Homo sapiens: one gene and its partners. The protein of the gene in region 6 purifies or fractionates together with the protein of the main gene of each other region. This does not show direct contact. Each region holds a gene or a part of one and is shown on either strand. Other genes may lie near its edges.

Region 1 (3,500 bases), on a different chromosome or scaffold from region 6:
CATGAACCAGGAGCTAGGGTGCCACCTAATCACCTGGGCCTCTAAGATTCGGTCTGGAACCAAGTCAGTGGCTCACTGGTGTCAGGTCAGGGTCAGCCAGGGGCCAAGGTATCCTGTGCAGATCTGCTGGTGAGCACTTAAGGGAGACTATGCCTCAGGTGAGGACAGGAGTGCCTCTTTAAACCAGCATGTGGCCAGGTGCAGTGGCTCATGCCTGTAATCCCAGCACTTTTGGAGGCCCAGGCAGGAGGATCGCTTGAGTTCAGGAGTTCTAGAGCAGCCTGGGCAACATGGCGAAACCTCATCTCTACAAAAGTTAGCCAAGCATGGTGGCATGTGCCTGTAGTCCCGGCAACTTGGAAGCCTGAGGTGGAGGCTCGCTTGAGCCTGGGAGGTTGAGGCTGCAGAGAGCCATGATGACACTACTGCATTCTAGCCTGGGTGCAGAGCGAGACCCTGTATCAAAAAAAAAAAAAAAAAAAGTAAAAAACTATGTTTCAGTTTTCATCATCAGTTTTTAGAACATTATTATTTACACATATTTTTATTTTTTGAGACAGGTCTTGCTCTGTCACCCAGGCTGGAGTACAGTGGTGTGATCATGGCTCACTTGACTTCCCAGGCTCAAGGGATCCTCCCACCTTAGCCTCCTGAGTAGCTGGGACTACAGGCATGCGCCACCACACCTGGCTAATTTTTTATTTTTTGTAGAGACAAGATTCCTATGTTTCCCAGGCTGGTCTCAAACTTCTGGGCTCAAGCGATCCTTCTGCCTCAGCTTCCCATAATGCTGAGATTACAGGCATGAGCCACTATGCCCGGCCAGAACATTTTTACAAAGTAGTTCAGAAATATGGCCAGGCACAGTGGCTCATGCCTGTAATCTCAGCATTTTGGGAAGTCATGGCAGGAAGATCGCTTGAGCCCAGGAATTTGACACCAGCCTGGGCAACATGGCAAAATCTCCATCTCTACAAAAATACAAAAATTAGCCAGCCATGGTGGCGAGTATCTGTGGTCCCACCTACTCTGCAGGCTGAGGTGGAAGGATCACTGGAACCCAGGAGTTCGAGGCTACAGTGAACTATAATTGTGCCACTGCACTCCAGCCTGAGCAACAGAGTAAGACCCTGTCTCTAAAAAAAATATTTTTAATAAATAGAAATACAAAAATGACAATTGACACCGCTGTAGTGCTGTTTATCAAACACTGTGGTAAGAGATTACCTACCTTAACTCATTCAATCTCACGGTCACACCCCGAGGGACTGAATGAGTTAAGGTAGGTAGTCTCTTACTACCGTGTTTGATAGATAAAAAGCATCCTAAATAAGAGGAAAGTCAGAAACAAAGAGGTTCTAACTTACTGGAGTTGGAAGTCTAGCTCAAGTCCACTCTCTTGGCTGCTGGGCTGTCCTGCTTTTCATAAGCTGTATGTACATTTTTGGGGCACTGAACATTTACATAGGATATGTTGCAGGGGAGGGTAAGCAAGAAGCAACGACGCCACCCTCTGCCTCCTCTCCTCCCATCACTCCGTTTCCTTTCTGACTCCTCATAGAGTAGTCCTCCACCCCCAGTTCTCATGGTTTACCCTGCTGCGTCCAGGGGGTTTCTCGTCAGGCCCTCCTGCTTAGCCACAGGAGAATTACCTGTGACCCTTGCTGGGCCCCCCACTCAAGGCTGATCACGGCCTTCCCTGGGATTTGATCAGAGCTGGGAAGAGACAAGACAAAACTGTGCATGTGAGCTCTGGGGCCTGCCCGCGTGTGAGAGCACCCAGGCACGTGAGAGCACCCGGGCAGCCAGCACTTGGGTCCCTCCTAGGTTTCGGCCATCCGGCTCTCCTCTTCATTCTTGAACTTCCCCACAATCCCTCTGGCAAATTCTCTTTTTGCTTTGCCCCAGTGTGAGTTTAGTTTCTGTTTCTTGCCACCAAAAGAATATAGAGCACGTGTCTGACTAGCTTTGGACTGTCCCTGCTGTGGTCGTAGTTGAAGTCCGCATCGATTGTTACCTGGAATAGTGTGGTGGGCTTGGTGGAGCCTGCTTTCCTCCAGTGTCCCCACTCCCTCCCGCCCAGCAGGACTGAGCCTTTTCAAAGGCAGGCACCCTTAATAGTCCTGCGTGTGGCAGGTGCTTGCGTGCACTGACTTGACCCCTCCCCAGCCAGTGAGGTTGTTAGACCCTCCACCTTCTGTCCCATCTCTATCTGCCTGTGGCCCTTCAGGCACTCTGCTCCCTCTGCCTCAAGCACTCCCTGGGAAACAGCCCATCAGATCTGGGAAGGGCCTCGGTCCCCTGCCCCAGCTTTTCTACAGGACTGTGTGAGTATTTCCAGGAGAGCTGTGCCTGGGTAGTGCCACCACACAGTCTTGGCAGGGCACAGCACCATAATAGCTGGCCCTCATTGACCTTGCCAATCAGGACAAGACCCTGCCTGAGTGACCTTGGTGAGCTCCCTCAGCTGTGAAGATAGGTGATGCTCACAGCTGATCCAGGTGAACAGGAACATCATGGGGTGTTCTGAGCATGATACTTAACACATCTGTCCACCTCGGCCCTCCTTTCTCTTTGCCCTGTGGATGTTTGTAGCACTGGGCGTGAGCCCGGCATTGGGCCCTAGCTCCCAGCTTCATGCTGGGCCACACAGCAGGGGCCAACACAGACCTGTGAAGGGTGTGAAGCAGCAAACAGCAACGCTGGGTGAATTTAAACTGAACGGCACTGAGGAAGAATGGCTGTCAAGGCTCTTTTCTCTTCCCTTAGAATGTGCAAAAGTCTTCTATGCTGCGGGTGCTAAACTGGTGCTCTGTGGCCGGAATGGTGGGGCCCTAGAAGAGCTCATCAGAGAACTCACCGCTTCTCATGCCACCAAGGTGAGCCAGGGGCGTGCTTTCCATGGGGAAGGAGTGCAGGCCGTCTTCTGTAGGCACTGAGGAGATAGTGGCCCACTCCTGGACTGCTGAGCTGTAGGACATCCATGCGTCACACTGTCCCAGGGAAGGCAGCAGGTCTCCATAGCGAACCGGGCCCACTGCATAGGGAGAGAGAACTGTCCAGTGGTTTACATCCTGATGCCCCTACTGGCTAGCACTGTGAGTTGAGAAAGTTCTCTTTTCTCCCTTTCCTTTTACCTGGCTAAGCTCTACTTACTGGGTGGGAGTGGGGGATGGTGATAACTTTAAAAGGTGTTTTTTTTTTTTTTTTTGGGACACGGAGTCTCGCTCTGTCACCCAGGCTGGAGTGCAATGGCCCAATCTCGGTTCACTGCAATCTCTGCCCCCTGGGTTCAAGCGATTCTTCCGCCTCAGCCTCCTGAGTAGCTGGGATTACAGGTGCACACCACCACACTCAGCTGATTTTTGTATTTTTTGTAGAGACGTGGTTTCACCATATTGACCAGGCTGGACTCCTGATCTCAGATGATCTGCCCGCCTCAGCCTCCCAAAGTGCTGGGATTACAGGCGTGAGCCACCAGTACAGCCCTTGTTTTATTT
Region 2 (3,500 bases), on a different chromosome or scaffold from region 6:
AAATTTGTGTCTAAAAGAATGTGCAGTGTAAAATATTTCTCTGCATAGTTTTCTTTTTAGAAAAGCTGTAACACTTTATGCTCATGCCTTTCAAAAGTTTTTATTGAAATCATCCTAAATCCATTTTTAAAAACCTACCTAAACAAACAAATAAAACCCTCCCAACCCCAAACTGGCCCCTCACTTCCTACAAATAAGTGGGCAACCCTAGCCATATATGGGGTGTGCTGGTAGGGCACCAGTGCCCACACTGCTGCTGTTCTAATGCTTTTTCTGTAGTTGCTGCCTCTGTGCTTCCTGGCAACACTTTTGTGGTCTGACTTTGAGGTGTCATAACCAAGACCATCTTTCATGTGCCTCAGCTACAGTATGATTGCAAGCTGTGACTGAGCATTTTCTATAGCCAGGTAGAAACACTGGATGGAATAGAGGAAGTGTTTTTCATCATCCATTTGTTATTACCACATTTAAAAATTACAGTTCACATAAGAAAAGTGTTTTAAAAATCTTATTAGATGATTTTTAAAAGAAAACTATTTAAAAACCTTTTAATAGGGGGAGGCATAAAACGTTGTTTTGTTACTACCATAACATGTTACTTCTTGACACTATATGAAGTTGCTATTTTCATTGCCTCTGCCTGCAAAAAATTGCCATCTTTTACTCCACCCTTCTTTTGAAAGTTTGTGGGGCTCCACAATAAGGTTGAGAAGATGATGAGGTATTGGCATTTTGGTATACCTCTTTGAAAGGTTGAAGAACTCCAACAATTATAAGTTTATTCTCAGTTGGAGTCAGATATGTAGTAGCCATGACTTAATCAGTGTTTTATTGAGGAGCAGTGCTTTTCCAAACAATAGTTTAATTTTCACAACATGCTTTTTCACTTGCTCAAAGTTAACAAGAAAATAAATGGCAGAGCTGGAATTCTTATGCAGGTCTGTTTGATGCCGAAACTCAAACTTTACCCTATGCCAGGTATCTTCTTTGAAGTCTGAAGAAGAAAATATTCTTAAATCTTTTCATCATTATGGTGGTGTTTAGTAATTGGAGGTTTCTCTGTAAATTAGCTGAAAATCAAGTGAAACACACATATAATTTTTTTCTTCATCCACATTTGTTTTAGCTAGCCCATACTTTTAAGACCTTTCTATGGTAATTGAAGTGCAGTAGTACTGTATCTAAATTAATCTCAGAATTCGAAATTGTCCTAAATTTTAGGAAGTGCCAAGATTATTTTTGACTTACCATTATGTGCAGAATATATCAGCAGCAACAAGAAACACTCCTTTTTTCAGGACATAGAATTTAATTTTTAACTACCTTTATTTTTCTTTACCCTAATAGCAATTTATATCGTTTCAGTTGTTGGGTGTGTGTGTGGGTGTGGTGTGTGTATGTGTGTTTTGAGACAGGGTGACAGACTCTGTCACCATGGCTGGAGTGCAGTGGCATGAACATAGTTCACTGTAGCCTTCCTGGGCTCAAGTGATCCTCCCACCTCAGCCTCCCGATCAGCTGGGAATACAGGCATGTGCCACCACTTCCAGCTAATTTTTTTTTTTCTTTGACAGAGTCTCCCCGTGTTGCCCAAGCTAGTCTCAAACTTCTGGGCCCAAGTGATCCTCCCACCTCAGCCTCCCAAAGTGCTGGGATTACAGGCGTGAGCCACTGCACTTAGCCTGTTTTAGTTTTTTTTAATCATTTACAGTAAATTTTTTATACATACGTACATGTACATATTTGATTCTTTTTAGAGACAAATTGTAGGAAACTTCATACCATGGATACTGGGGGTGGGGGGGAAGAAGTCCCTTATATACCCTTAAGGTAGGGACTTTGATTCTTTTTTTCTTTAAATCTCCTTTTGTATCGGCATTTTGTTTTAGTAGGTACACAATAAATATTTAATGATTAAAAAAAATTGGACACAATGTAAACTAATATTTTGAAGAGCAGAATTCATAGAATATTAAATAATTGGGTAAGTGTAACACACTGACAAACTTTTAAAATGTCCTAATAAAAAAGCTTATATCAACCACTTACTTTTATAATACTTACAATGTAAAGGTAGCCATTATTACAATCAAAACATTTATTAGGTGGCTGGGTATGGTGGCTCACGCCTGTAGTCCTAGCACTTTGGGAGGCCTAGGCAGGCGGATCACCTGAGCTCAGGAATTTGAGATCAACCTGGCCAACATGGCAAAACCCCATCTCTACTAAAAATACAAAATAAAAATTAGCCAGGCATGGTGGCGCATGCCTGTAATCCCAGCTACTCAGGAGGCTGAGGCACGAGAATCGCCTGAACCCAAGAGGCAGAGGTTGGAGTGAACTGAGATCATGCCTCTTCACTCCAGCCTGGGCGACAGAGCGAGATTCTGTCTTAAAGAAAAAAATTATTGGGATGTTAGATTTATTTTTGAAATGAGATCTATTACTGATTATCAATAGACGCTTCAGTTTATGTAACTTAGTTTAAAAATTCTTTAAACAAATCCTTGAGTGTTCATTTAGAAAAGTAATCTCTAGGCTGGATGCAGTGGCTCACACCTGTAATCCCAGCACTTTGAGAAGCCAAGGCAAGAGACTTGATCCCAGAAGTTCAAGACCAGCCTGGGCAATATAGGGAGACGGTGTCTCTACCAATAAAGAGAAAAGAAAAGAAAGAAAAAGAAAAGAAATCTCTAGCATGGTAATATTAGAAATAATGCATATTTTCTGTTATTTTACTGATACTTTTTTTTTCCAAATAACATTTTTACTATGGCTCCCTCTATGTCAGTATTTTCTGACCTTATTAGTGTTTTGGTTGTTTATCTTTGCATTGTTATGCTGGCTAACCATAAAAAGACACGCTTGAGTTCTGTGTTACTGCCCTAAGTGTGCTTGCTGCTCAACTCAAATGCTCTTTCATGGGAGGAGACATTCCACATTGTCATGTGTTGTATAGGCATTTCTGAAATGACATTCAGTAGAAACCATGGAAAGAAGTGAAAGCATTCCTCAGCTGTCACTTTTTTAGTAGTCTATTTAAATGTTATGTATATTAAGTGAGATATTCTGCAGAGAGAGCTTCACTTAATAAAAAGCTTTACTTTAACTTGATGATTTAACTCACATTTGAGCTGAAATTACTATTTTCTTAGTTTAACATGACCTCTAACAATAAAATCATAAGATTGTACAAAGCTCATGTCATTTTCTTGAATACTGCATAGTGCAGAGGAGAATACATTTTGTGAGATGTCACTTGGCACCCTCTTAAAGATTAATAACCATGTGGGAAAGTATATTTTCATGGACTGTTACACACACACACACACACACGTACACGTATGCACTCAACCTTTACTTGTAATAAACATCCCAAATTATATATATTTTATTAGCCTTCAAAATTGTTTTAGATGGTTATAAACTTATTTGAATATTTATATTCTTGCATGGAACACTTCTAGAGCTTTTCTGTTGGAGTTTCAGCTCCAGAACAT
Region 3 (3,500 bases), on a different chromosome or scaffold from region 6:
AATCAATTCTCCTGCCTCAGCCTCCTGAGTAGCTGGGACTGCAGGTACATGCCACCATGCCCGGCTGATTTTTGTATTTTTAGTAGAGATGGGGTTTCATGTTGGCCATGGCTGGCCAGGCTGGTCTCGAACTCCTGACCTCAAGTGATCCACCTGCCTTGGCCTCCCAAAGTGCTGGGATTACAGGTGTGAGCCACCATGCCCAGTTTAAAGATATTTCTTCCCTTTGTAGTTAGTCATGAGCTGAAAAGTACAGGTGGTTCAACAAAAGATAAAAATTGTTCATCAAATGTCAATTTTCTAGCTCCAGCCATCTACAATGAACAAAAAAATTAGCCTCGTCTTTGACATCAGGCCCACTGAGAGATATCAGCAAATCTAATCAGTATTTTAAAAAGTAACTTTTGGCCAGGCATGGTGGTTCACACCTGTAATTCTAGCACTTTGAGAAGCTGAGGCAGGAAGATCACTTAAGCCCAGGAGTTAAGAGACCAGCTTGGGAAACATGGCGAAACTTTGTCTCTAAAAAAATACAAAAATTAGTTGGGCATGGTGGTGCATTCCTGTAGTCCCAGCTACTCAGGAGGCTGAGGTGGGAGGATCACCTCAACCCATGAGATCGAGGGTTGCAGTGAGCCAAAATCTTACCACTACACTCCAGCATGGGCAACAGAGTGAGACCCTGTCTAAAAAAATAAATAAATACAAATAAAAAGTAACTTTACTGACTTAACCATGTGTTTAAAAACAAAGCAGTACCTTCTTCTGTTTAACTGAAGGAAGCATGCCTTGTTCTTCAATTTTATATTCTATGTGTCCAGTAGAGTATCTGCCACACAGTAGGAGATTAACATCTCTCAACTACTCCTGCCTCAGAGGTCATTAAGCCCCTCATGGCGGTCATCAGATATAGAGTTGTCCTAGTCTAGAGGAGAATTAAACAATAATCAAAAGGCAGAAATCAGCAACAAAGTGCGAAGTCGAAGTTCAGAAGATGTGAAAGAAACACTTTTCCTCCTTATCCACTCTTTGCGGAAGTTTGTGCATTGTGTCTTGATTGATTCACCAGCTGGGTTTTTGTGATCAGTGTCACCTCATCTAACCTTACTTGCGATCTAGGCCAGTCCCTTCTGTAGTGAATGGCATTCACTGGAAATTAGTCTTGCCGTATAATTCCATGACCATATGTCACACCGGGGCAAGGGGACACCTTTGGGAAGTTCTTCATGATTTGCTAATCCCTGCTTCTAAATAAGCAGAATCTAGTTGTGAGAAAAGGTGGTTGTAGTCCAAGAAGCTTACTGTACAGTGGAAGGAAATACATGGGCTCTTTTTTTTTCTTTCCTTATTTATTTATTTATTTTCTTAAATTGACATTTAGGCCAGGCACAGTGGCTGCTGCCTGTAATCCAAGCCCTTTGAGAGGCTGAGGAGGGCAGACCACTTGAGCTCAGGAGTTCAAGACCAGTCTGGGCAACATGGCACAAAACCCCATATCTACTTTAAAAAAAAAAAGTATATTTATATTGCAGTGAGCCAAGATCACACCACTGCACTCCAGCCTGGGTGACAGCGAGACACTGTCTCAAAAAAAAAAAAAAAAGGAAAGAAAAAAATTGACATTTAGTGAACACCAAAGCTTATTATCAAGGAACCAGTTTCCCTTACACTTATTTATTATATTACCTTTTAAAGCTCAACTTAATTTTTCATATCCATTTTAGGTATTGTTATCGATAAGATATTCTGTTTTCTTATGATCTAGATAAGTTCAATTTGCTTAATTAATTTATTTATTAAATTTTTTATTTCCATGGGTTATTGGGGAACTGGGTGTTTGGTTACATGAGTAAGTTCTTTAGTGGTGATTTGTGAGATTTTGGTGTACCCATCACCTGAGCAGTATACGCTGCATCCTATTTGTAGTCTTTTATCCCTCACTCCCTTCCCACCCTTTCCTCCTGAGTCCCCAAAGTCCATTTTGTCATTCTTATGCCTTTGCATCCTCATAGCTTAGCTCCTACTTATGGGTAGGAATGTACGATGTTTGGCTTTCCATTCCTGAGTTACTTCACTTAGAATAATAATCTCCAATCTCATCCAGGTCACTGTGAATGCTATTAGTTCACTCCTTTTTATGGCTAAGTAGTATCCATCATATATATATATATATGTGTATATATATATATATGTGTATATATATATGTATATATATGTGTATATATATGTGTATATATATGTGTATATATATGTGTATATATATGTGTATATATATGTGTATATATATGTGTATATATGTATGTGTATATATATACACATATATATGTGTGTGTATATATATATATACACACATATATATATGTATATATATACACACACCACAGTTTCTTTATCCACTCATTGATTGATGGGTATTTGGGTTGGTTCCACGTTTTTGCAATCAGTTTGCTTAATTTAGCTGTTCTTTTCAAAGAGATAATAACTCTAAAACTAACAAGCAGCATCTACCTCTTTTCACTTTCACTAAGTCTGTCCAGTTCCTTTTGCTGGCTGAAGTGATAGACACTCAGAAAACAGGCAGTGTTAACTGATGGAGAATAAAAGGCCAGAGAAGCCTCCTTTTGCACTAGGGCAGCACAGAGTAAAGTGTTTTCCATTTTTTTTTCTTTTTTTTTTTTTTTCTCTAAGAGGAATCCATTTGCAAACCAGAGAAAACCATCCAGCAGTGATTCTTAAATATTCGTGAGGCATAGATGGACACTTGCAAATCTGATGGGGGTTTTGGACCATTCTTCCTTGGAGAAACTGATGTATGTACAATGATGCTATAAATTCATAATTTTTATCAGTCTCATGAGTTTCATGGAACTCCTTGCCCTAAGGCCATTTATAAACCTCCTTGGAATACCCAGGTTAAGAACCCACAATGACCACCTCTCAAAGTTTGAGAATACAATTACAAGGGCTCTATTTTTCTATCATGTGCCGCTATTCCCCACCCCACTGCCACCCACAGTTCGAAAACCTATCATACATGAGTGAAAAGTAATAATTGTGGGTTTTATACTCTCAATTTGAAAACTAGTCATCGGTTGCTATGTCAACCAGTCAACATACTATTGACCATTTTTAGGATCTATTTCTATTGGATGTAATAAAATGCAATTTATATGCAATGAAAAGGTGGTTTTGTAATATGACTATTTCACAGAGACCTGATGAATTCTAAGGATGAGTCTTAAGTTTCTCACCCCAAGGAGTTGGGTCTGTTCTGTCTTCAGCTTTTGGTGGCAGCAGTTTCCCAGTTTTGCTGTTAACAGGAAGGAATGGAGATGTCCCAGGCCCCACCTGACAATTCTTGTAGTCTCACAGGAGATGTCCTGCGCCCCACTTGACAATACTCCTAGGCTCACAGTAGGTGTCCCAGGCAACCCCTGACAGTACTCCTAGGCTCACAGATGTCCCGGCCCCCCGACAGTACTCCTAGTCTCACAGTAGGT
Region 4 (3,414 bases), on a different chromosome or scaffold from region 6:
AAGGGTGGGTTTGATATTTATAAAGATGAGACCTTTTTTGAACATGACTAGTCTTTTTACATATGTTATCTCAATTAGTTCTTTGCATTGAAGTAGATATCATGTTTTACTGATGAAAAATTGAGGCTCAGAGAGGTTATGTTATACTGGTAGTAAAATGGGAATAAGAGTACCTACCATAGGCAACTGTTGTGAGGATTAAATGGGGACAGTCTTTGTCAGAGTAAGAAATCAACTTTGGAGACTTTCTCTTTGAGGAAGCCCTATGCCTTCATAACAGTGCTTGGCCAGAGTAAGTACTCCATAGATGCTAGCTATTGTTAGATATTTTAAATTCTCACTTCATAAAAATTGATCCCCTGAAGTTTAGGACAAGGTACATCAATAATTTCTATTGTGTTTCTTTCTTTTTTAGAGATGGGAGTCTCACTATGTTGCCCAGGCAAGTCTCGAACTCCTAGTCTCAAGTGAGCCTCCCACCTTGGCCTCCCAAAGTGTTGGGATTATAGGCATGAGCCACTGGTGTCTGGCAAATTCTGTTCCTTAATGTTTCAAAACTGCTTTTTTTCCACTCAGTCATTTAATTGTCACATTGAAAATAAAGTTTAGGTGCATACTTATTCCTACCCAATTGAAGTAATAATTCCTTATTGATATTTTTACCTACAGACTTTAGGTATTATGTATTCTGTTTTTGCTTTGTTTTATACATTGTTTTGTTTTACGTTTTTGTGTTTTTTTTTTAATCCAGAATTAAACAACCACCATGTCGAGCAAAAAGGCAAAGACCAAGACCACCAAGAAGCGCCCTCAGCGTGCAACATCCAATGTGTTTGCCATGTTTGACCAGTCACAGATTCAGGAGTTCAAAGAGGCCTTCAACATGATTGATCAGAACAGAGATGGCTTCATCGACAAGGAAGATTTGCATGATATGCTTGCTTCTCTAGGTAGACTTTATATTCTTTATTTGTATTTTCCCTAAAATAATAATTTGTCTCTTTATGAATCTTTTTTTTGTGCGATGTACAAATATTTCTCTCCTTGTCTCAAAAGGCCTCTGGAGAGATTTCTGGGTGTGGGAGGTGCTATTTTGGGGCTTGGCCAGTCATATGGAGATAAGCCTACAAGGTTGGGGACCTGGCAGATGCTGTGCCCGGGTAGGCTAATGTTCCTGTTAGCTAAATTTTTTAGGTCTCTAGATGGAAAGCCAGGGCATGGCTAGGCAGCAAAATACCAGAGTTTCAAACAAGTGTAGCTAAATAATATACTTAATAAAGGTTGAGTACAGGTTATAAACAAGGAGTGACAGTAAGTGATGATGGTTATCTCTGGGAAGGAGGGGCAGTGCGACTGGAAAAGGGAACACAGTGAAGAAGACTTTCACAATATTTTGTATGATTTTTTTAATAACTAAAATGTAAAGATACAGGATTTAAAGCACACATAAACAGCCATTTGTATGTTGGTATATGGGTGTTAATATTCCTTGTATGATTTTGTTATTGTTTCTTAACATGCATCCTACATGTTCTGGCCAGAGTCAGCAGTTAATTTACAGTTGGGAGTCAAGGAACTGCAGGCAAAGGAGACCTTGATAGGCCAAAGCGGAGGGGGTGAGGCAGGCTGGGAGTGGGTCAGGGATGGCCTACAGTGAGACTTTGCGCTCTGTCCTCCTGCTTGGCTGACTGGCCAAAAAGGCAAAGAAAGAGGTGGGGGTTTTTTTTTTCTCTCTTTTAATGCCTACAAAATGATCAGCTAGCTTTTATTCTTCTAACTTTTGATTTTGATTATTTCTCCTAACACATTGAAAGTAAAGTTTAGGTGTGTACTTATTCCTATCCAACATATGATTTTGAAAACTTTTAAGCCTACAAAAAGTGGAAAGAACATTATAGTGAACACCTATACATCTTTAGCTATATTCACTGATTGTTAACATTTTGTAACTTTTCTTTATCTAGGGTGAGAGTAGAATCAAAGATTTTTATCTGATTTGTTGACTTGTAGTTAGATTATAACCTAGTGTTTCTCACATTCAGAATGTCTGAGTATGTTCTTGGGCAAGTCAGTACTGAAGAAGGCCTCTGAGGAAAATTGAGGAATGTAGCCATCTTCCAAAGATTGAACTCTCAAGTCTATACTCTGCTTATAATAGATGCTCAATAGATATTTGTTGAACGAACAAGTCATGGTAGAGTCAGAGGTTGTCTTTGAGACCTTCTGTTTTGCAGAAACCCATCCTTTTAAAGATACGTGTTAAAAGAACAATTTCAGCCTAATTAAATTTAATGGAGTTTAATTGAGCAATGAACAATTTGCGAATCAGGTAACCCCAGAATCACAGCAGATTCACAGAGACTCCAGTGCAGCCACGTGGTAGAAGAAGATTTATAGACAAAAAAAGGGAAATGACGTACAGGAATTGGAAGTGAGGTATGGAATGGCTTGATTGATTACAGCTCGGCATATGCCTTATTTGAACATGGTTTGAACACTCAGCAGTGTATGAATGGTTGAAGTATGGCTGCTGAGATTGGCCAAGGCTTAGCAGTTGTTACAGGCTCATACTCCTAAGTTAGGTTTTCAGTCTTGTCTGACTATTAAGCTAGGTTATAATTCATTCACAAGGACTCAACTGTAGAAGTACGGAGTCTTTCTCAGGCCATATTTAGTTTGCTTTAACATATGTATTTACCTTTTAGGGGAACCTTCATACATTATTGGTAGGAATGTAAATAAGTACAGCCACTGTGAAGGACATTATGGAGGTTCCTCAGAGAACTAAAAATAGGAGCTCTCCCATATGATCCAGCAATCCCACTGCTAGGTATATACCCCCAAAAAAGGAAATCAGTAGTATCATTGAAGAGGTATCTGCACTCCCATGTTTATTCCAGCACTATTCACAGCAGCCATGATTTGAAAACACCGTAAGTGTCCGTCACCAGATGAACGGATTTTAAAAATGTGGTACTTATGTACAATGGAATACTGTTCGACCATAAAAAATGAGATCCTGTCATTGCAGCAACATGGATGGAATGGAAGACATTATGTTAAGTGAAATAAGCCAGGCACAGAAAGACAAACTTCACATGTTCTCACACACTTGTGGGAGCTAAAAGTTAAAATAATTGAACTCATGGAGATGGAAAGTAGAAGGATGGTTATCAGAGACTGGGAAGGGCAGGGAGAAGAGTGGGAACTGTTAATAGATACAAAAGTATAGATAGAATGAATAAGATCTAGTATTGGATAGAATAACAAGGTGACTGCAGTCAGCAGTAATTTGTTGTACATTTTAAAATAACTCAGTATAGTTGGAATGTTGGTAACACAAAGAAATGATAAATGCTTGAAGGGATGGCTATGCCATTTACCTTGATGTGATTATTTTGCATTATATGCCTG
Region 5 (3,500 bases), on a different chromosome or scaffold from region 6:
TAGCTGGGCGTGGTGTCAGGCACCTGTAGTCCCAGCTCTTCAGGAGGCTGAGGCAGGAGAATGGCGTGAACCCAGGAGGCAGAGCTTGCAGTGAGCCAAGATCGCACCACTTGCACTCCAGCCTGGGCGACAGAGCGAGACTCTGTCTCAAAAATAAATAAATAAATAAAATAAAAAGTTTAAGGAAAACAAAAACTATAAAAGCATTAGAGGAAAGCATCAAATGCTCATAAACCCTTTGGAGTAGGAATGGTCTAAGTATGACACCAAAGAAAGAGAGACCCTAAGGCAAAAGATTCATAGATTCGATTACATAAAAATGTAAAACTTTTATCTATCAAAAACATACACTGAAAGCAAAAAGATAGATGAGTGTCCGGAGAAAGGGAAAAAGTAGATGAAACACTGTTTTTATATGTTGAGATGTATAATGTATTTAGGAAAATAGGTACAAACAAGGTCACCTGAATTGTATTTTATATTGGCAAATATATCCTTGACATAATGTTTCATAATGTGTTATTTTTTTCACTTTTGATACAGGGAAATTTAAAATTTGTAGTAGATGGTGACACGCCTCTTATTGAGAATGGCAAAGTAGTATCTATCATAGCAGAATTGCTCTCTACTAAGACAGATATGGTTGAGAAAGCCCTTCTTTACCGGACTGTGGCCACAGGCCGTGACATCATTGACAAGCAGCACACAGAACAAGAGGCCAGCTACGGCAGAGACGCCTTTGCCAAGGTGAGAGTGTAACTGACCCTATGTCACCTGGTGTTGATCGCAGTTGCAAATTGAGTGAAATCCTGTGAGCATGTATTCAGACATTCTTGAAAGAGGGTTAAGGCTTTTAGAAACCATAATGATACTTTCTGGCCATACAAGCCTCGGTAAAACTCCCAGATGTAAGTAAGCATCACTGCCAAAAAAGGTTCTGAGAAGAGTGGAAGCTGACTGGGGGTGGCGCTCATGAGGGCTTCACGTGCTGCTTCTCTCACTCAATAATGCTTCGCCAGAGTCAACTGACTGAGCTCTGATCCATTTTTTTTAAGTTTTATTTATTTTTAATTGACAATAATTGTATATGTTTATGGGTACAGTGGGATATTTCAGGACATGTACACATTATGGAATGATCAGATCAGACTAATTAGCATACCTCTTACCTCACCTACTTACCATTTATTTGTGGTGAGAACATTTAAAATCCACTCTTAGCAATTTGAAACAATATTATTAGTATTATTATTAACAGTCACCACGCTTTGCAGTGGATCACCACAAATTATTCTTCCTGTCTAACTGAAACTTTACCCTTTGACTAACGTCTCACACTTTCTCCATCCACCCCGCTCCTCTAGCCTCTGGTAATCACCATTCTATTCTCTGCTTCTATGAGTTTGACTTTTTCAGATTGCATATAGGTGAGATCACACAATATTTGTCTTTTTGTGCCTGGCTTATTTCACTTAGCATAATGTCCTCCAGGGCTGTGTACTAAGCCTGCAGTGATAGTACCACAATTTATTTAACCACCTTACTCTTAAGTCACCCACTTTACTTCCCTTTTTTGCAACTGCAAACAATGCTGCACGTCTTTATACATCTATGCTTATATACTAGTGCTTTTGTTTCAGCTGGATGGATTCCCAGGAGTGAGCTTGCCAGGTCAAAGGGTATACTTATTTTATTTTTATTTTTTGAGACGGAGTCTTGCTCTGCCATCCAGGCTGGAGTGCAGTGGCACAATCTTGGCTCACTGCAACCTCCACCTCCCGGGTTCAAGTGATTCTCCTGTCTCAGCCTCCCAAGTAGCTGGGATTACAGGAGTGTGCCACCACGCCCAGCTAATTTTTGTATTTTTAGTAGAGACAAGGTTTCACCATGTTGACCAGGCTGGTCTCGGACTCCTGACCTCAAGCGATCTACCTGCCTTGGCCTCCCAAAGTGCTGGGATTACAGGCGTGAGCCACCGCACCTGCCATATATTTATTTTAAACTTTAAATTTACTGATTTTATGGCTGCATGGTAATATTTTATTGTTACTTTTATTTCATTACTAGTATATTTGAGCATCTTATCATATTTTTGTAGAGTATTTTAACATATTCTAAGAATTGCCTGGGTATATCTTTTGTGCATTTTTCTTTGGAGCTGTTATCTTTTTATTGTCAATTTCTAAGTGTTCTTAGCATATCATAAACTTTAACCCTTTGTTATCTGTGTGGCAAGCGTTGTATTTTCTCACGTCTAACTTTCGTTGTTGTTGTTTTGCTGGTTGATTAGTTTACTGTCTATTTCATTTTTTACTCTTGTAAGTCTTAGGCTTGGTTTTTAGTTTTGGGGGAATTTGAATTTTTCCTAAGTGCAATGGAGAGCAATAGGGAGGACTTTAAGGAGGGGCAATGACATCAAGTTTGCCTTTTTTTTTTTTTGAGATGGAGTCTCGCTTTGTTGCCCAAGCTGGAGTGCAGTGGCACAATCTCAGCTCACTGCAAGCTCTGCCTTCCGGGTTCATGCCATTCTCCTGCCTCAGCCTCCCAAGTAGCTGGAACTACAGGCGACCGCCACCACGCCCAGCTAATTTTTTATATTTTTAGTAGAGACAGGGTTTCACCATGTTAGCCAGGATGGTCTCCATCTCCTGACCTTGTGATCCACCCTCCTCGGCCTCCCAAAGTGCTGGGATTAGGTGTGAGCCACCGCACCCGGCCGTTTTTTTGTCTTTTTTTTTTTTTCTTTTTTTTTTGAGACGGTGTCTCTCTGTCACCCAGGCTGGAGTGCAATGGTATGATCTCAGCTCACTGCAACCTCCACCTCCCGGGTTCAAGCAATTCTCCTGCCTCAGCCTCCTGAGTAGCTAGGATTACAGGCACCCGCCACCATGCCTGGCTAATTTTTGTATTTTTAGTAGAGATGGGGTCTCATCATGTTGGCCAGGCTGGTCTCAAACTCCTGACCTCAGGTGATCTGCCCACCTCAGCTTCCCAGAGTGTTGGGATTACAGGCATGAGCCACTGCACCTGGCAAGTTTGCATTTTTAAAATGATCACTCTGGCCTTAGTATGGAGAATGTTATGGGGGCTAGAGTAAGAATGGAAGCAAAGAGGTCAATTAAGGGGATATTTTGTTAATCCAGGAAAGAGATGAGGGCAGCTTGAATCAGAAAAGTGAAAGTACAAATGGGGAGAGGAGGATGATTTGAAATGGACTGTGTTGAGAAAATAAAATCCATAGGACCTATTATGTGGAGAATGAGAGAAGCAAGAATAATACTTTAACATGGTCTGGCTCCAGCCCACCTCTCCCACCTCATTTTATACTATACCCAGCCCCCCTTTCTTCAGCCCAGCACATTAGTCTTCTCTCAGTCCTCACAGATTATCCTGATCCCTTTCTCCTTCCAGTCACAGGGCCTGTGCACATCTGTTCCCTCTGCTTGGACTGCTCTTCTCTCCTCTCTTGCTTGGCTACCTCTTACTCATCCTTCTGGTCT
Region 6 (3,500 bases):
TCTTGTTGCCCAGGCTGGAGTGCAATGGCGTGATAACGGCTCACCACAATCTCCGCCTCCTGGGTTCAAGTGATTCTCCTGCCTCAGCCTCCCAAGTAGTTGGGATTACAGGCATGCGCCACCATGCCAGGCTAATTTTGTATTTTTAGTAGAGACGGGGTTTCTCCATGTTGGTCAGGCTGGTCTCAAACTCCCGACCTCAGACCATCCGCCCGCCTCGGCCTCCCAAAGTGCTGGGATTACAGGCGTGAGCTACTGCCCCCAGCTGGTTTGAATTTTCTAGCTTTTTTTTTTTTTTGTTATTTTATAAATACAGCATATTCTCCTCTTTGGCTTTTAAAAAGTTCAGCATAAATTATTTTGAGATTTATCAGTGTTATGTAAATCGGTAGTTCATTCTTTTTAATTACTGAGTAGTAGTCCATTTGTGGATGAACCACGATTTGTACATTCCCTTGTTGATGGACTTTCGGCTTCTCACCAGTTTTTGGCTATTACAAATAAAGCTGCTGTGAACATCTGTGTGCCAATCTTTGTACAGAATACACTTTTTTAAAAGTAAATAGGAGTGAAATGGCTGGGTCATATGGTAGATGTATTTAACTTTTTAAGAAACTGTTGGCTGGGCATGGTGGCTCATGCGTGTAATCCCAGCACTTTGGGAGGCCGAGGCAGGAGGATTGCCTGAGCCCAGGGATTTGAGACCAGCCTGGGCAACATGGTAAGACTCCGTCTTTAAAAAAATAATAAAATAAAATAAATTGCCAAACTAATTATTTTAAAAGTAATTGTACAGTTGTACATTGCAGCTAGCACTGTATGATAATTCTAGTTCATCCATATCCTTACCAACACCTGGCCAATTTTAGCCCTTCCAATTGGTCTTTAGTGATGTCTCATTGTTCTTTTAATTTGTGCTTCCCTATGGCTAGTGGCATTCAGTATCTTTCCATAAGTTTTTTTTTTTTTCCTCCTCCGGCAGAGTCTCACTTTGGTTGCCCAGGCTGGAGTGCGGTGGCGTGATCTTGGCTCATTGCAGCCTTGACCTCCTGGGCGCAGGTAATTCTCCCACCTCAGCCTCTCGAGTAACTGGGACTACAGGCATATGCCACCATACCCAGCTAATTTTTTAATTTTTTATAGAGATGGGGTCTTACTATGTTGCCCAGACTGGTCTTGAACTCCTGGATTCAAGTCGTCCACCTGCCTCAGCCTCGCAAAGTGCTGGGATTACAGGTGTGAGCCATGTGCCCAACTTCCCTAAACTTATATGTCTTCTGTATATCCCTTTTGGCAAAGTGTCTGTTCTTGTCTTTTGCCTATTTTTTGTTGTTGTTGTTGGTTGGTTGTTTTCTTGTAATTGAGTTTTGAGAATTCGTTACATATTTGGGATGCAAGTCCCTCGTCAAATGATTTGCAAATACATTCTCTCTAGGCCGTGGTCCATCTTTTCATTCTCTCAGCAGTGTCTTGAAGAACAGGAATTTTAAATTTTGATGAAATTTATCAATTTGCTCTTTTATAGATCAGGGTTTTGGTTTCATATTTAAGAAATTGTTGCCTAATCCCAAATCATAGGAATTTCCTTCTATTTTTTCTTTTTTTTTTAGACGGAGTCTCTTTCTTTGTCGCCCAGGCTGGAGTGTAGTGGCACAATCTCTGCCCACTGCAATCTCCAGCTCACTGCAATCTCTGCCTCCCGGGTTCCAGCGATTCTCCTGCCTCAGCCTCCCGAGTAGCTGGGACTACAGGCATCCGCCACCACGCCTGGCTAATTTTTTGTATTTTTAGTAGAGTTGCAGTTTTAGTAGAGGCGGGGTTTCACCGCGCTAGCCAGGATGGTCTCAATCTCCTGACCTCGTGATCCACCTGCCTCGGCCTCCCAAAGTCTGGGATTACAGGCGTGAGTCATTGTGCTTGGCCTTCCTTCTATGTTTATGGAAGCTTTATAGTTTTAGATTTTACAATTGGGTTTGTGTTTAATTTTGATTACATTTTTATATGGTGCAAAATAAGGATGGAAATTATTTGTTTATGAACAGTTGTTCATTTGCTGAAAAATATGTTTTTATTCATTGAATAGCTTTTACATCTTTTTTTTTTTTTTTTTTTGAGATGGCGTCTTGTCCCATCGCCCATGCTAGAGTGCAGTGGCGCAATCTCGGCTCACTGCAACCTCCACTTCCCAGGTTCAAGCGATTCTCCTGCCTCAGCCTCCTGAGTAGCTGGGATTACAGGCGCACGCCACCACACCTGGCTAATTTTTGTATTTTTAATAGAGACAGGGTTTTACCATGTTGGCCAGGCTGGTCTCGAACTCCTGACCTCGTTATCCACCCATCTTGGCCTCCCAGAGTGCTGGGATTATGGGTGTGAGCCACCATGCCTGGTCTACTTTTGCATCTTTGTCAAAAATCAATTGTCCATATATTAGTCAGTCTCTGAACTCTTTATTCTGTTCCTTTGATCTATTTGTCTTTACATCAGTACCCTGCAGTCTTGATTACTGGAGGTTCATAAGACTTGAAAACTAACAGTCCCCCAATCTTGTTATTTTTTAAAGTCGTTTTAGTGATTCTGGGTCTTTGCATTTTAGAATTAGCCTGGCAATTTCCACAAGAAAGCCTTTTGGGATTGTTATTGGTATTCTTTTGCCGTGAAGATCTGTTTGGAAAGAATTGATCAAGTCTTCTGATGCATGAATGTAGTATCTCTCCATTTATTTTAGATCTGTAATTTCTTTCAGCTGAGTTTTGTAGTTTTCAGTTGACATGTCTTTCCCATCTTTTGTCAGATTATTCCGTTTCATATTTCTTGACGTTATTGTAAATGGTATCATTACATAAATGTAATTTTTTAAAATTTAAATTCACAATTGTTTGTTGCCAGCATATAGAAATACGGTTGATTTTTAAAAAATTGTTTAATTGTGGTAAAATACACATAGCAAAGAAGTTACCATCTTAACCATTCTTAAGTGTAGACTTCAGTAGTGTAAGTATATTCACATTGTTCTGCAGCCAATTTCCAGAACTACTTCTTCTTTCAAAACAAATTCTATACCCATGAAACAACAACTCCATTTTTTGCCATCCTCCCATTCCCTGACAACCACCATTCTCCTTTGTTTCTATGTGTTTGACTTACTTTAGATACCTCATATATATGGAATCATACCATATTCATCCTTATCTTTTTGTGATTGACTTATTTCATCTTGCATAATGTCCTCAAGGTTTGTCCATGTGTGCCGTGTGTCAAATTTTCCTTTTTTTTTTTTTTTTTGGACACATGGTCTCTCTCTCTGTTGCTCAGGCTGGAGTGCAGTGGCATGATCACGGCTCAGTGGAGCCTCGACCTCCCCAGGCTCAGGCGATCCTCCCACCTCAGCCTCCCAAGTAGCTGAGAGTACAGGCGCGCACGAGCAGGCCCAGCTAATTTTTGTATTTTTTGTAGAGTTGCAGTTTTGTCATGTTACCCAGGGTGGTCTCAAACTCCTG
Region 7 (3,500 bases), on a different chromosome or scaffold from region 6:
GGCAGCCTAGGCTAGTGCAGTGACAGAGGAGAGGTCTGTTAGACAAGGGGTCCCCAACCCCCAGGCTACAGACCAGCACCTGTCCATGGCCTGTTAGGAACCAGGCCGCACAGCAGGAGGTGAGTGGTGGAAGAGTGAGTGAAGCTTCATCTGTATTTACAGCCACTCCCCATCACTCGTGTTACCACCTGAGCTCTACCTCCTGTTAGACCAGTGCTGGCATTCGATTCTTATAGGAGCTCAAACTCTATCGTGAACTACTCATGCCAAGAGATCCAGGTTGCGTGCTCCTTATGAGAATCTAATGCCTGATGACCTGTCACTGTCTCCCATCACCCCCAGATGGGACCATCTAGTTGCAGAAAAATAAGTTCAGGGCTCCCACTGATTCTACATTATGGTGAGTTGTATAATTATTTCATTATATATTACAATGTAATAATAATAGAAATAAAGTACACAATAAATGTAATGCACTTGAGTCATCCCAAAACCAACCCCCCTACCCCTAACTTCCCTGTGGAAAAACTGTCTTCCATGAAACCAGTCCCTGGTGTCAAAAAGGTTGGGGACTGCTGTATTAGAGCCATTGGTAGATGTGCAATTGAAAGCACAGCACTCAACAGTCTGCAGTGTACTTTTATACCATCATCTCCATGCTATGGCTACATATACAGATACATAACGGTAAATGACTTGTCTCAGCTTACCAAGTTTGTAGGTAGGTACTGGAGCTGGGACTGTATCTTTTGCTCAGGGATTCCTTGCACTGCTTTCTCATCTCAGATTCCCTGGAGCCTAATGTGGTACTTGGCACATAATAGACACTTGATGAATGTTTGTTAAAATTGTTGAATTGCCACTGGCTGATTTCAGTCTTCTTATTAATCGTAGTAGCTGTAGTTAATGTGCTGTTGACTGTTTGACATAAAAACGAATCTAGGCAGTAGCCAGTTCATCATTGGAAGCTGCCAAATGGGAGTGGCAGATGGGCATGCAGGTGTGTTTAATTCTTTACTACATTGATCAAGGGGTCAGCCTTGGTCTTTGCTTCCTCCTAGGGGTAAAATAAAATCTAAGAAGAGGGCTCTGAAATTGTTATATGTTTCACTTTATTATTTCTAATTACTGTTTTCAATAGTACATATATTTTTGCAACAGTGATTTTTTTTTAATTGGACCATAGTTTTAAAAAAATTAATCTTTAAGCTGGTTTTGATGATTTGGATACTATCTGAACCTAGTCTTGGTATTCCACTCAGCAGCCACAGACAGCCTCTTTTTGATGAACAAGGCCTTGAATCTGTAAGACTCCCTCATCCTGCCTTCGGGTTTTGGAGTAATTCACCCAAAACAAGCTTGGTAAGGTTGGATCAGGGTGAAGAAAAGAAAAATAGAGCTGTAAATAAGTGAAGACAAGTCCAGGAAGGGACATGCAAATTCCAAAATTGTGCAATATAAATTTAGAAATATATCAAGGTTAACCTTATCTGTGTTCAATTTTGTGTCTGTACAGTGGTACCACTTTTACTGCTGATGTGCCATTGCGGAAAGGGCGCCAAAGGCTTTACCCCCATACCTGGCACCATAGAGATGCTGCATCCTTGGAATAATGAAGGAGCACCACCTGAAGACAAGGTCAGTGGATCAGATGTCAATATGACTTGTCTTCTTCTTGGGTTTTAAAGGGGCCTAGGGAAGTGTTTCTTACATGTTTGGTTGAGTGAGTAAAGTGATCACTATGGATTTCACTCATGTGCCTTTGTTAAGCAAAGAGTTCAAATGACAGCATATTTTGTGTTTGTTGCTGGGGCAGAATTGAGATAGTTTTACTCTGTTTTGACACTTCCCATGTTGTAGAGAATGTAGAGCAAGGTTCAGGAAGAGCAAGAGTGTGTAGGAATCTAAGTCTTTTGTCCTAACATTAAATGGGCAGTTTTCATAACCAGGAACTGCTTCATTTCCATTTCCCTCAATACATAGGGTTTGCAGAGGTAAGCCCACAACCCCCATGACACTTGTAAAATGTTGCAAAACCCCATTTCCCAACTACATCATAGCCATATCCCTTTGTCTCTCTGTTGCACCTTCACCCTGGACCTCTCACCACCATCTGTTATGAGCACCATTTCTAATAGGATAGGATTTAGCATCAGGTGGCAGAGAACTCAGAATAACAGTGGCTTAATCCTAAAATGGGCATTCCAAGATCAACATGATGATTCATCCGCAGCATGGTCCCCAGTTCCCTCTTCCTTGTTTTTCTTCCATGGTTGAGTTCCATTCCCACACTGTCCTCATGTCCTAGTTCTAGCTACCTAGCTGCCGTCCCCACATTCTAACCAGCACATGGGAGAAAAGTGAAGAACCCTCTTTAAGCACACTTCCCGGAACTTGTGTACACCATTTCTGCTTCATTCACATTGACCACAGTTTAGTCAGGTGGCTATACCTAGTGGCATCAGAGGCTTAGAAATATAGTCTTTATTTTGGGTGGCCATGGATCCAGGTCAAAACAAAGTTAAGAATTCTGTAACTATAGAAGAAGGTATCAAACTGTAGAGGGAGGTTGAAATGCCATTGGTCGCATAGAGTAAAGGAGCTGAGACTGTTTGGGCTTTGTTTTCTCTTTGGGTTCTATCCACCTATAAAACAAGAAGAGAGAAGAAAGGAGATCTTCATAAGACTTACATAAGTTATTCAACTCAAAATACTTTTTCTAACTGGCCTCAGTGGAAATAGCTTATACCTTCCTATGCCCACTTGACTCAGATCCTTCTACCAAGGATGAAGGATTCCCTCCATCCTCCTGACTCAGTTCTCAGCTGTGTTTGCTCTCACAGGTGGTGCCATCATTTCTGCCAGTGGATCAAGGGGGCAGTCTAGTAGGAAGAAATGGAGTAGGAGGTATGGCCAAGGAAGCCACGATGAAAGGAAGTAGCTCTGCTTCCATTGTCAAAGGGCAACATGAGATGTCCGAGATGGATGGAAGGTGGGAAGAACACAGAAGCCTGCTTTCTGGTAGAGCTACCCAGTTTACAGGGGCCACAGGCGCTATCATGACCACTGAAACCACGAAGACCGCAAGGGCCACAGGGGCTTCCAGAGACATGGCCGGAGCTCAGGCAGCTGCTGTTGCACTGAACGAAGAATTCTTAAGAAATTATTTCACTGATGTAAGGATGAGTTTTATGTATTGGTGGTGGGGGGTGGGGGGAACATTTGTATGTGAATGTGATATTATTAGGGTAATCATTGCCTTGGATCCAAATGAGACTTTGGGTTTTTTTTTTTTTTCTTTTTTCAGGGAATACTTATAGGCAATAAGGAAAGAGAAATGGGACCCACAGAATCAGTCGGTGTTAGCTAAATTATGCTGCAGTAACCATGATCTTAGTTCTCACACAGGCATATTTCTCACTTACAGTTATGTTTTTGCCAGTCAGTCAGCTCTGCTTTCCTTCATGATGTCTTCATATCAAGATGCACACTGAGAGAGC

Evidence for each region.
Region 1: the proteins of SLC71A2 (region 6) and DHRS7B purify together in Homo sapiens (affinity purification with mass spectrometry; one large-scale study listed by BioGRID and IntAct). This does not show direct contact.
Region 2: the proteins of SLC71A2 (region 6) and PPP1R12A purify together in Homo sapiens (affinity purification with mass spectrometry; one large-scale study listed by BioGRID and IntAct). This does not show direct contact.
Region 3: the proteins of SLC71A2 (region 6) and RAI14 purify together in Homo sapiens (affinity purification with mass spectrometry; one large-scale study listed by BioGRID and IntAct). This does not show direct contact.
Region 4: the proteins of SLC71A2 (region 6) and MYL12B purify together in Homo sapiens (affinity purification with mass spectrometry; one large-scale study listed by BioGRID and IntAct). This does not show direct contact.
Region 5: the proteins of SLC71A2 (region 6) and MYO1D purify together in Homo sapiens (affinity purification with mass spectrometry; one large-scale study listed by BioGRID and IntAct). This does not show direct contact.
Region 7: the proteins of SLC71A2 (region 6) and DSG2 purify together in Homo sapiens (affinity purification with mass spectrometry; one large-scale study listed by BioGRID and IntAct). This does not show direct contact.

What each region holds. Positions count from the first base shown.
Region 1 is NC_000017.11:21,175,464-21,178,963, forward strand, and holds part of DHRS7B (dehydrogenase/reductase SDR family member 7B), read left to right. Parts: intron 1-2,769; coding exon 2,770-2,879; intron 2,880-3,500.
Region 2 is NC_000012.12:79,925,098-79,928,597, reverse strand, and holds part of PPP1R12A (protein phosphatase 1 regulatory subunit 12A), read left to right. Parts: intron 1-3,500. UniProt on the Homo sapiens protein: Key regulator of protein phosphatase 1C (PPP1C). Mediates binding to myosin. As part of the PPP1C complex, involved in dephosphorylation of PLK1. Capable of inhibiting HIF1AN-dependent suppression of HIF1A activity.
Region 3 is NC_000005.10:34,662,828-34,666,327, forward strand, and holds part of RAI14 (ankycorbin), read left to right. Parts: intron 1-3,500. UniProt on the Homo sapiens protein: Plays a role in actin regulation at the ectoplasmic specialization, a type of cell junction specific to testis. Important for establishment of sperm polarity and normal spermatid adhesion.
Region 4 is NC_000018.10:3,272,133-3,275,546, forward strand, and holds part of MYL12B (myosin regulatory light chain 12B), read left to right. Parts: intron 1-751; 5' UTR 752-766; coding exon 767-950; intron 951-3,414. UniProt on the Homo sapiens protein: Myosin regulatory subunit that plays an important role in regulation of both smooth muscle and nonmuscle cell contractile activity via its phosphorylation. Phosphorylation triggers actin polymerization in vascular smooth muscle.
Region 5 is NC_000017.11:32,762,125-32,765,624, reverse strand, and holds part of MYO1D (unconventional myosin-Id), read left to right. Parts: intron 1-543; coding exon 544-747; intron 748-3,500. UniProt on the Homo sapiens protein: Unconventional myosin that functions as actin-based motor protein with ATPase activity. Plays a role in endosomal protein trafficking, and especially in the transfer of cargo proteins from early to recycling endosomes.
Region 6 is NC_000009.12:94,381,069-94,384,568, forward strand, and holds part of SLC71A2 (hippocampus abundant transcript-like protein 1), read left to right. Parts: intron 1-3,500.
Region 7 is NC_000018.10:31,539,677-31,543,176, forward strand, and holds part of DSG2 (desmoglein-2 preproprotein), read left to right. Parts: intron 1-1,516; coding exon 1,517-1,638; intron 1,639-2,469; exon of another isoform or gene 2,470-2,645; intron 2,646-2,843; coding exon 2,844-3,176; intron 3,177-3,425; exon of another isoform or gene 3,426-3,500.